Linked DNA regions of Homo sapiens: region 2 is reported to be linked to region 1. Evidence: microRNA targets listed by miRTarBase, many of them from high-throughput screens and not tested one by one. Region 1 holds a microRNA gene; the other region holds the end of a gene's coding sequence.

What was found. The annotated mature microRNA hsa-miR-204-5p reads UUCCCUUUGUCAUCCUAUGCCU and lies in region 1 at 1,233-1,254, shown strand. An mRNA with a match to its seed (bases 2 to 7 or 8) in the 3' UTR can be bound and repressed. Matches are read on the target gene's strand: a 7mer-m8 pairs with bases 2 to 8, a 7mer-A1 pairs with bases 2 to 7 and ends in A, and an 8mer does both.
Region 2: the mRNA of ZNF362 is a reported target of hsa-miR-204-5p. Seed matches in the 3' UTR shown: 7mer-m8 at 1,203-1,209.

Annotation. Positions count from the first base shown.
Region 1 is chr9:70,808,133-70,811,284 of GRCh38, reverse strand. It overlaps MIR204 (microRNA 204), which reads left to right and starts at 1,201; the gene lies at 1,201-1,310. The region is part of intron 6 of TRPM3 (transient receptor potential cation channel subfamily M member 3); the gene reads left to right.
Region 2 is chr1:33,298,798-33,301,797 of GRCh38, reverse strand. ZNF362 (zinc finger protein 362) reads right to left here. Exons shown (of 9, transcript NM_152493.3): 9 at 1,079-2,868. The coding sequence ends at 2,752. Among named protein-coding and RNA genes, the nearest start is that of A3GALT2, 21 kb to the left of the region's middle. RefSeq lists an enhancer at 1,466-2,415 and a silencer at 2,847-3,000.

The sequences.
Region 1 (3,152 bases):
CACAGGGTGTAGAAATTTCAAAGATTTTATTTTTTGACAGGATGCCTGCCGTTTTTCTCTCTTGACTCCCGCTTGTTTTATTCATTTTGGGGTAGTTGCCAGTTAGACTCAGTTGGTAAGTATAATTAATGGAAAATGTGAATTTCTTCTTAAACTCCAAGAAATTAACCACAGAAGTCTTCATTTCCTTTATAATTTCCTAACAGTATCACTCCCTATGACTGTTGTTTTATCTCTATCTCTTCTGACATTCAACCACATCAGAAATTAGTTACTCCCTATTATTTATCATCCTAAAGATACCATATAGGACAGCTTGACGGCACTATTGGGATACTACTAGGAGGGAATGAGCATTTATTTAGGTTCCAAGCACCATGCTAGGCATTTTCATATATACTATCTCTTTTAATACTCACAAAAACCCTTCAAGATAGGGATTATTTTCTTCCTTTTATACAGTTGATGAAATGGCACCTCCAAGAGGTTAAGCCTTTGCCTTAAATCCAATTAGTGGCACAGCTGGGTGCAAACCTAGGCTGACATAATTCCAAAATACTTTCTCCTTTCATCCTACACATGGAAGCATTATCTCATTTTTTTAAAAAGGCTCCCCTAAAGTTTGGTTACCTTGGAGAGTTTGAGGGTCATTATTCCATTCAGCAACTATTTGAGCACCAACTCTGTGCCAAATATAGGTTGAGCATTGATTCAGTTGGAATGAGTCATCAAGCAAAACTTTGGGAAGAAGATGGTGGTTAGTTGCAAGATGGTGGAGAAACAATATTAGGAAGAAATACAACAGGGTGCTGGAGAGGAGCGTGGGGATGGAGGCAAGCAGAGGACCTCCTGATCATGTACCCATAGAACAGGGCGATGGAGAGGAGGGTGGGGTTGGAGGCAAGAAGAGGACCTCCTGATCGTGTATCCATAGGACAGGGTGATGGAGAGGAGGGTGGGGTTGGAGGCAAGCAGAGGGCCTCCTGATCATTTACCCACAGGACAGGGTGATGGAGAGGAGGGTGAGGGTGGAGGCAAGCAGAGGACCTCCTGATCATGTACCCATAGGACAGGGTGATGGAGAGGAGGGTGGGGGTGGAGGCAAGCAGAGGACCTCCTGATCATGTACCCATAGGACAGGGTGATGGAAAGGAGGGTGGGGGTGGAGGCAAGCAGAGGACTTCCTGATCGCGTACCCATGGCTACAGTCTTTCTTCATGTGACTCGTGGACTTCCCTTTGTCATCCTATGCCTGAGAATATATGAAGGAGGCTGGGAAGGCAAAGGGACGTTCAATTGTCATCACTGGCATCTTTTTTGATCATTGCACCATCATCAAATGCATTGGGATAACCATGACATGAAATTTTCCATCATTGGGCCCATAACTGTCCCATAAGAGAGATGAAAAACACTGTATGTTAAAGGTCATAGTAGAACTTCATCCAAGCAGCTCTGGAATTAGGAAGGAGTGAAATATACTCTCAAAGACTAATAGTTCTGGGTCCAAACCATGTGACTTGAAAAGGAAGCAAAGATTCCCCTGGACAGGTTACATATACTGTCATGCATTGCTTAACGATGGGGTTACTATATCCTCAGAAATGAATCATTAGGTGATTTTGTCATGAACATCATAGAGTGTACTTATACAAACCTAGAAGGTATAACCTACTACACACCTAGGCTATATAGTATAGCCTATTGCTTGTAGGCTACAAACCTGTATAGCATGTTACTATGTGGTAGTGAATACTGTAGGCAACTGTAACACGATGGTAAGTATTTGTGTATCTAAACATAGAAAAGACACAATAAAAACATAGTATAAAAGATACAAATAGTACACCTTAATAGGGCACTTACCATGAATGGTGCTTGCAGGACTGGAAGTTGCTCTGGGTGAGTCACTGAGTGAGTGCTAGAATATTTTTGTATACTACTGTAAACTTTATAAACACTGTATAATTAGGCTATACTAAATTTATTTTTTAAATTTTATTTCTTCAAAACTAAATTAACCTTAGCTGACTGTAACTTTTTTACTTTGTAAACTTTTTAACGTTTTAAAACTTTTAGACTATTTTGCAATAATACTTAGCTTAAAACATAAGCACATTATGCAGCTATACAAAAATATTTTCTTCATTTGCTTATTCTATGAGCTTTTTTCTGTCTTTAAAATTTTTTATCTTTGTATTTTTTAAACTTTTTTCTTAAAAATGAAGACACAAACACACTCATTAAACTAGGCCTGCACAGGGTCAGAATCATCAAGATGTCACTAGGTGATAGGACTTTTTCAGCTCTATTACTACCTTATGGGACCACCATTGTATTTGTGGTCTGTCATTGACCAAAGTGTCATTATGCAACACATGACTGTATATCAAGAACATCTTATTTCCTTCTGTGGGTGCTACAATCTGTTCAGCCCAATCATGCAAACTTTCTACTGCCTCAAACAGTCAAGGGAAAGGCCTTCCAAAACACAAATACCAAATTGATGATCAGTTCACTTTAGACTGTAATGACATCATTTTTCAGGTGCTGTCAAGTAAACATGTTTAAAGCTTTCTCCGCCTTTTAGAGGGTCTTCCCTCTAAAGAATAATTTGTGAGGAATAAACAACACAATCTATATCCCTGCTTTTTCATTATATGAAACGACTTGACACAGTTGGCTGTGTAACTGAAATATTTGTCATGCTTGTTAATGAAAAGTTACTTTGTCAATAAAGGTAATAATGAAGCCAAAAAAATAACTTTGAGGGAACAGAGCAAATTTTAGCGAAACTGGTTTCTTGGTATTGACTTGTCATGTTTATCTCACCCATTTTCCTATTCAAGCTAAAGACCTCCCTTTTTTCAGCAAAGAGACTTTTCTACATTGGAATTAGTTGTTCAGGGACTGGGATAGTTCTTGTAAACAAGTAGGTCCCAACAGGAGAGCTGTCCACCATTCTAAGACTTCTTAGACACTTTTACATTCAGGGAAGAATTTTGAGCTCCCTTTTCAGATTAGAAAGATTTGGGTTGCCAATGTTTGACTGGCATTTTGGTCTCAAAGTCAGCAATGTTTACTGTTGTTGGTCAGATACAATAGGTTCCTAGCATAACATAGGAACCTGTTATCTTGATGGAACCCAATAT
Region 2 (3,000 bases), not on the chromosome of region 1:
CACCCTCTCTTGCTCTTCTGCCTTCTGGCATGAGATGACATGGCATGAAGGCCCTCACCAGATGCTGGCACCATGCTCTTGGACTTCCCAACCTCCAGAACTATGAGACTGGAATTTATCATGAACAGAATGAAATTTCTGCTCATTATAAATTACTGAGTTTGTGATATCCTGTTATAGCAGCATAAAACAGATGAAGACACTGAGGCTTTTGTCAGAGAGACAAGAGGCTTGATTGCTGGAACCCTGGGGACTGAGAGACTAGAGCTGCTGACCCCACAGGCGCCTCAGGCTGAAGCTGACTCAGAACAGAGTGGAGAGCTGGAGACACATCCTTTGAGCCCTGAAGCTGGCCTGACCACTGTCCTGTTACATAAGCCAATACACCCTTGTTTGGATTGGACTTTCTATCACTTGCAGCAAAGTCTTGACACATGAGGACTGTGAGGACTCAGGGAAACGAGTTCGAACCAATGATGACCTCCATGGTAGATGACCTCCATGATGACCTTCCATGGACAGTGGAAGCACTGTCCCCCTCACAGTGCTTCCACAGGGCCAGACATGATAAGCTTTTGGGGATTTTATTACTAAATTTCCTTCCTAGGCAGTCAAAACATTGACTCCTATGGGGAAAAAACAATGTATGACAAGGATGTCTTGGACTCCCCCTCCAATCACTAGAATCACTTCCACAAATCAGGCACTCATGATGGACCCCCCCCCCACATAGGTGGGGTGCCCCCTCAGGGAGCAGTGGAAGTGAGACTTATTGGTGGACCTAGTATATCCAAGAAGGCTCCAGAACTAGGCAATGCTGGGTCAGTTTATGTCACTGCCACTATACTGCAGCATGATCCTTAGCAAAGGGCCTCTCTTGGTTTGCTGCCCACTTCTTAGGGAGTTGTGAGGCAATCAACATAAAGCACTCAGTTCAGCACCTGGAGTGAGGCCAGCCCACAGTGAGAGGCCACTTTCTTCCTTCTCCAAGTCTGGGGGGCGGGGGAGGGGAGAGGAGCAATGGAAAGGTGCCCCCCAGCCCTGCCCTCGCACAGAGCACGCCAAACACCACCGCCACCCGGGTGCAGGTACAGTTTATTCTTCACAACAGAGAAATACAAAGAGCAGAGGGTTTGTAATTCCTTTGTTTCTTGCCCCCTTTAGTGTTTTCCCCCCACATTTGATTTTCATTTGCTCCCCACTCCCTTTTTTAAATAGAATGCAAACTACCTTCCTGAAGTGTCTGAGGGGCACCTGCCCTCACCTCCCTGCCTCCAAGATGCAGACTGAGAAGCCAACAGACTGTTTTTTCTTTTTTAATAAGGTAACTAGTTCTAAATATGGTGGCCTGGAGGTCCCATAGAAAAAGCAAAGGGGTGTTAACAGTATGTATAACAGCGTATTTACAGGGAGTAACATGCGGACAAAAAGCTACAATACTGAGTATCAGACGACGCAAGTCAAACAAAGGGCCGGGGGTGGGGGCAGAGAACCCCATGGGCAAAGAAACCCCAGGAAACGTTAAACTGGTAAATCAATGGCGAGTTAAGGCTTAAAAAGTGTATAAAAATAACACAGTTAATATTCAAAACGGAACTCCAGATACAGAATATATAGATGAGTTTCTGTCTAGTTTTCTTTTTTTTCCCGGGGGGATGTAGGGGGCTTCTCTGGGCTCTGTACATGGTTCCTATATACACCGACACGCATGGCTTTCAGATTGGGGTGTGTCTGTGGGGGCTGGGGGCAGGGTCTGCTCCTGGGACCTGCCTCCCCGGGGATCCCTTCCCTGCTGAGGGGCCTAGGGCCTCGGCTGGGGATTCCCACTCCATGGCAGGGAAGACAAATAACCCCTCCCTGGGCACTGCCCCCATCTGGAGGAAATTCTGGAGGGAGGTCCCAGATCCAGGCCCACTCCCTCCCCATCCCCCTGCCCACAGTCTGGGATGGTGGGAGAGGTAGCCGAAAGGTTTCCTGGCCAGCACCGAGGTAGACTGGGGTGGTCTTCAGGGCAGCAGGGGAGGGCCAGGTCTTACCCAGCCCATCCCCACCCCATTTCCCTGGGCCCGCCACCCAGCCCATCACTGCACCCTTTGGTCCTGTGGATCTCCCACCCCTCTCGTTTCTGCCTCCTGAAGCTGCCGCACCCCTCTGCTCAGTGATGCCCAGGGCACAGCTCGAGAGGTGCGAGCCAGGCACTCAGGGGCGAAGGGCTCACTCCGGCTGCTTCCTGCCCCTCCCACCTGGGGGTCCCCTTTGCAGTCCAGAAACCTAGGCCCGAGCCTTCCCTCAAGACCTGAGGCCATGGCAAGAGAAGGTCCCACATTGCCCTCTGGTTCTCTGCGTCCATCTGTCCGATTCTTTAAATTTCTCGGTCTTAGCAGCACCAACTTCCTGGCCAATAAATATCTTTTCTGTTATTTCCAAAACAAACTTAAAAAAAAAAAACGAAAAAAAAAAAAACAGTGAAGCAAGTGAAGGGTGGGGAACAAAAAGAAAACTCAACAGAGAGGTTCAAAGTGCTCTGAGATCGTCTTTGGATGCCACCAAAACAGTCCAGAATCTTGCAGTTGGCCTGGCCGCCCCCGGACTGGACCAGGCAGGGCTTCTGCGGACCAAGCTTTCTGGAAGATTGGGAAGGTCGTGAGAGAGCTTGGTGGTTCCTGGAGGGCCCCCGGAGGGAGCTGGGGCCTGGTGCTGCCTGGGTCTGTGTCTGCCAGTGGGCCGGGTGGGGCGGCGCCTCCAGTGGGCTCAGATGAGAGAGATTCGCACCGGGATGCCGGGGGACTCCGTCCTCTGGGGCGAGTGATGGCTCACCAGGTGCTCCACCACCGTGTGTTTGGACATGTGCTTCATCAGGTAGGTCTCCTGTGGGCAGGGATGAGATTCAGAACAGGGAACCACCAGCAAGGGAGGGAGAAGAGGCTGCAGTTCCCACCAGCAGCCACTGGAGGGCTCTTGGTAGGCGGTTCAGAGGGTGGAGGACAGCCACAGTTTTGC